2 separate regions of the Homo sapiens genome follow, and region 2 is linked to region 1. The links come from fine-mapping of genetic effects on gene expression. Tissue or cell type: whole blood. Region 1 holds a variant in brackets; the other region holds the start of a gene. All regions are shown on one strand. Distances are between the middles of the regions.

The links. PIP is the estimated chance that this variant, and not a neighbour inherited with it, causes the effect.
Region 2: TCFL5 starts here. The variant in region 1 is fine-mapped to the expression of TCFL5 in whole blood (TOPMed, PIP above 0.99).

What each region holds. Positions count from the first base shown.
Region 1 is chr20:62,824,898-62,827,505 of GRCh38, forward strand. It overlaps COL9A3 (collagen type IX alpha 3 chain), which reads left to right. Exons shown (of 32, transcript NM_001853.4): 12 at 71-124; 13 at 920-973; 14 at 1,307-1,360; 15 at 1,870-1,923; 16 at 2,344-2,397. Among named protein-coding and RNA genes, the nearest start is that of COL9A3, 9.2 kb to the left of the region's middle. RefSeq lists a silencer at 302-361. The variant C/T (reference allele first, on the strand shown) is at 1,478.
Region 2 is chr20:62,860,752-62,863,445 of GRCh38, forward strand. It overlaps TCFL5 (transcription factor like 5), which reads right to left and starts at 1,071. Exons shown (of 6, transcript NM_006602.4): 1 at 273-1,071. The coding sequence starts at 919. It overlaps LOC105372717 (a long non-coding RNA gene), which reads left to right and starts at 684. Exons shown (of 4, transcript XR_936989.4): 1 at 684-790. RefSeq lists silencers at 490-639, 1,140-1,329, 1,380-1,479 and an enhancer at 864-1,518.

The sequences.
Region 1 (2,608 bases):
CACTTCAGTGTTGCCAGGGAGGGGGTGTCGGGGGGTCTGGGTGGGGCAGTGACCCCACATTTGCTTGCAGGGACCCACTGGCTACAAAGGCGAGCAGGGGGAAGTCGGCAAGGACGGCGAGAAGGTGAAGCTGCCGCACAGCAGCTGGGGAGGAGCTGGGGACTGGAGGCTGGGCTCCGGCGGGAGGGAGGGGCTGGGCTCCGGCGGGAGGGAGGGGCTGGGCTCCGGCGGGAGGGAGGGGCTGGGCTCCGGCGGGAGGGAGGGGCTGGGCTCCGGCGGGAGGGAGGGGCTGGGCTCCGGCGGTGGGGAGGGACCGTTTCATGGGTGCACCTGCACTGGCACCTTCTGTGCCTGTCTTCCAGACAGGGCCTGGCTGGTCAGAGCTGGGTGATTTAGGCAGGGTCCCTGGACAGACCCCGTCCTGCCTGGCCTCGCTGTGGAAGCTCCCTGGTTTGTGTCTGTGGCCGGGGCGAGGGGCATCTGTGAGGATGGCTGGCTTTAGCCTGTAGCCTCCCCTCACCTGTGGTCGCTGTCCGTGGAGGGTGTCTGTCCATGGTCACCTGCAGGCCGGGGGACCAGGTCTGGGATGCCCTTTAGCGTGGCTGGAGTGATCAGATGAGGAGACCCCAGGTGCACATCAGAGGGGTCCCTGCTTGGCCACGAGGAGGGGCCTGGACAGGGCTGAAGGGCCTTGTGGGAACAGTGACCACGGACCCCGGCCCGGCAGGGCGAGGCCACCGAGACTCGCGGGACTGCTCTGGAACTGTGGGCAAGTGTCCCCTTCACAGAGCCTCCAAGGCCCAGCTGTGAAGGGGGCAACACCCCCAGCTGCTTGGGCTTGAGTAGGGTGACTGGAGGCACCGAAAGGTGCAAGGAGAGCCAGACTGGGCCGCTGACCACCCTATCCCCTCTGTTTCAGGGTGACCCTGGCCCCCCTGGGCCCGCCGGCCTCCCGGGCAGCGTGGGGCTGCAGGTGAGGCTAGGAAGGGGTAAGGATGGTGGGATGGGAACTCAGCCCACAGAGTGATCAAGCCCTGCACATATCTACCCCCGAGGGGGCCAGCTCCGGCTGGGGGGTGTTTGGCCAACACCCAGGCACAGGAGCGCGACCTGGCTGGGGGTCCCACCTCTGCCAAGGCTGCTGACCTCAAGGCTGGTGCCCCCTCCCTCTGGGGGACCTGAGCTGAGGCTGAGGGCTCATGGAAGACACCAGGGCTCCCAGGGGTACCCCGAGGGCCTTGGCCCTGGGTGCTCCCCGGGGTGGAGGTGCAGCCCCAGCCTCTGCATCTGTGCCTCTCTCTCGCAGGGCCCCCGGGGATTACGAGGACTGCCAGGGCCACTCGGGCCCCCTGGGGACCGGGTAAGTCCTGCAGCCCCTAGTGGGGGCCGGCCAGGTGGCTGGGGGCCTGGTTGTCTGCACCTCCAGACTTCAGATGGGCCCCGTGAGTGACACTCTGAAGCAGCCGGCACCCTGGCT[C/T]TGGCCATCGCCACTGTGGCGCAGGCCTTGCTCTGGGCCCCTGTTCTCGCATGTGCCTGGGCGAGAGCTGACAGTCGGCGCTCACTGATGCCCGCACGCGGTCCCAGGCTGCTGTGAGGGCTATTCACGCGTGTGCCCGGGCGAGGGCTGATGAACTCTGCTCGCTGACACCCACACACACGGTCCCAGGCTGCTGTGAGGGCTGTTGTGGCTTAGGCCAGAGCAGGAGGGGAAGCAGGGATTTGGAGACTACTAGGTGGCATCTTGGGGGAACTTGCTGGGGAGCCCTAGAGGAAGGGCTGCTTGTGTCTGGGCCGCCCCTGAGGGAGCACTGGGGGGATGCCAGCCAGGCCTCAGACAAGAGGACCCCGGATCCCCTCTCTCCTCTGCAGGGTCCCATTGGGTTCCGAGGGCCGCCTGGGATCCCAGGAGCGCCTGGGAAAGCGGTACGTGTGTCAGTGGACGGTGGGCGCCATGCCTCGTGACCTCTCTCCCCTTTCCCTCTGCTCCTCTCAGACGCCCCCAGCCCCACTGGGGCCCCTCTTCTGTGGCTGAGCTGTTCCCTGGACACCCTGGGAGGGCTTGTGGCATGGGTACGGGGGTGCTTACCAATGGAATCCATTCTTTGTGAGACATTCGCCTCCTTTCTGGTTCTGGACGTGGAATGAGGGGTCACCATCGTCCCTCTGGCACCTCCAGCCATCTCTGACCACTCCTGGAGGGCCCAGGCCTGGAGGGGCCCCCATCCCACTCTCTGACCACTCCTGGAGGGCTGTCCCCCGCCCGGGCCTGGAGGGGCCCCCGTCCTACTCTCCGACCAACTCCATGGTGTTAACTCTGTCCCTGCCCCACCTCATCCTTTCCAGGGTGACCGAGGCGAGAGGGGCCCAGAAGGGTTCCGCGGCCCCAAGGGTGACCTCGTAAGTGAGAGGGAAGTTGGTTCCCTGGGTCCTTATGTGGAAGAACCCAATTTCCCTCCTGACTCGTGCTGGGGAGGGGGACACACTTGGGAGTGAGACTGCAAGGGGCTGCCTGGGTGGGCCTGGGGGTGCGTGGGGGTGAGCCTGACCCTGGAGGGCCCGAGCTCTCTCCCTGGCCCCAGCCGTTCTCCCAGAGCCACATGGGAGCTCT
Region 2 (2,694 bases), 36 kb after region 1:
GTTCCCAGGAATTCTGCGCGCTCGGCCCCACTCCAGGCGGGGCCACTGAGGGAGGGGGTGTTTAGTTTCTGGAAGTACCTGCTCCCCGGGGCCCGCACAGCGCACACAGCCTTTCGGGGCGGCCCCAGACCCGGTGAGGTCCGCGCCCTGTGCCGCCGGGAGGGCAGGCTGGGGGCGTGCACAGCGAGGGCCCCCTTTGCCTCCGCCCCGGCCCCGGCCCCGGCCTCGGCCTCCACCCGGGCCCCGCCAGCCCCCGGCCGCCGGGCACGCACTTGTTGAGCGCCCCGCCCGGCTCGGGGGGCTCGGGGCCGCGCGGCGCGGGCGGCGGCTCGGCGGGGATGCTGTTGAAGCGGTCCTCCAGGCGGACGCGCACGGCCGGCTTGGCCCGGGCCTCGGGCGCGCCGTCGGGTCCAGCCGCAGCCGCAGCCGCGCCCGCGCCCTCCTTGGCGGCGCCGTCGGCCCGGGCCCTCGCTCCGTCCCCGCCGCCCGACGTCTTCTCCGCCGCGCCCGCCTCGCTTAGCAGCATCATGCGCAGCTCCTGGAAGTCGATGTGGCCCAGGCAGGGCGCGTCGGCCGCCAGCGCGGACGGGCACAGCACGGGGTACACGGGCGCCGCGCCCCCCTGACCGCCCGCCGCGAAGCCGCCCGCGCCTGCGCCCGGGCCCGCCGCCGCCAGCAGCGCCGAGTTGAGGCGCGTCTCGAGCTCGCCGTCAGCCGCCGCCTCCATGTGCGAGCAGAGGATGTGCTGCAGCTGCGTGTACTCCACCTCCGTCATCTCCACCAGGCTCAGGTCGGTGGTCGTGAAGCTCAGCCCCGGCTCGCCCAGCGCCGCGTCCCCGCCGCCCGCGCCCTCGACGGCCGCCTCGCCGCCTGCCGCGCCTGCCTCCGGCGGCGGCTCCCGCGGTCCGGGGCCCGACATGGCGGCGCGGCGCGGCCCAACGGCGGCGAGGGCGACGCGGGCGGCGGGCGGCGGGAGGCGGGAGGCGGGAGGCGGGAGGCGACCCCCGGCCCGAGCACTACTCTGCGCCGGCCACAGCCGGCGCGCCGTTGGGGGAGGGAAAACCGCTGAGTGCCGCGCACAGCGCCTGCGCCGCCCCGCCCCGCAACGGCAACCCCACCCCTGCGCCAGCCCCGCCCCCTCCGTTACCCGCCGCCGCCGGCCCCGCCCCCGCCCAACCGCCCGCACGCCCGGCCCCGCCCCACGTCGGCGGATGCTTGCGCGGAGGGCCCGCCCCCACGGCCCAGCCACGCCCCCACAGCTAGGCCACGCCCCCAGCTCAGGCCACGCCCGGTTCCCAGCCACGCCCCTGCTGCCCGGCCACTCCCCGCTGAGGCCCGGCGAGGGCGGCTGCGCTGGAATCAGCGTGATACCTACGCGGTGACACCCTGGGGAGAAGCCACGTCCGTGCGTGCACGTGCGCCCCATTACAGCGGCAGGAATGAAGACGTTGTCAAAACAGCTCCCTGGACCCACAGTCCACAGTGCCCAGGCCATCCGCTTCATCCGCGTAAAATGCGCAGCGCATGGCCGGGTTCTGTGGCTCATGCCTGTAATCCCAGTACTTTGGGAGGCCGAGGCAGGTGGATCAGGAGGTCAGGAGATCGAGACCAGCCTGGCCAACATGGTGAAACCCCGTCTCTACTAAAAATACAAAAATTAGCTGGACGTGGTAGTGCGTGCCTGTAATCCCAGCTACTCGGGAGGCTGAGGCAGGAGAATCGCTTGAACCCGGGAGGCGGAGGTTGCAGTGAGTCGAGATCTTGCCACTGCACTCCAGCCTGGGCAACAGAGCCAGACTTCATCTCAAAAAAAAAAAAAAAATGCACAGCGCGACGGTGGTGGTACATTCCCAGCGCTGGGCCCGCCTCCACCGCTGCATTCACCACCGGTCTCCTGTAGCAGTCAGCACACTGCCCCTCCCCCGCCTGCAGCCACTAATCTTCTGTGTCCAGGAGTTTGCCTAGGCTGGGCCTTCCCTGTTAAGGGAACTATGCAATATGTGGTCTTTAAGAGACTTATTTTTGCAATCTTGAAATAATTCCTGTACTTAACCTCTCACCCACATTCCCATCTCACTCAGTGGTTGTCTGTTCTCTGTCTAGGCATTAGGACACTTAAAGGCCTGTGACTTGCACATCGTCTTCTAAGCCGGGTCTGAATCTTTCGCTCATTTCATCACAGTTTAGACACAGACCAATATATTACAATGATTCAACGATGGGCTATGAAAGCTCAGCCATGCAAATCTAAACTCACACATGTATACATGAAAATAATATATCAGTTTTGGGCAAAACATCAGGTTTCAGAAAACACTACCAAGGAGGAAAGCAAGGACTTAAAACTCTCAAGGACATGGCAACAGAAGTCGTCTAACGTAAAACAGAGAGGGAAGGCTAAGAGAGTGAGCAGAGCATCAGTGAGCTGTGGGGCCGCTTCAAGCAGTGTGATTTGAAGTCCCCTGGGGGTGGAAGGATGGGGAGAAAGACATTTTAAGAAGTAATGATTGCCAGGTGAGGTGGCTCACGCCTGTAATCCCAGCACTTTGGGAGGCCGAGGCGGGCAGATCCCTTGAGGTCAGGAGTTCGAGATCAGCTTGGCCAACATGATGAAATCTCGTGTCTACTAAAAATATAAAAAATTAGCCAGGTGTGGTGGCATGTGCCTGTAATCCCAGCTACTCAGGAAGCTGA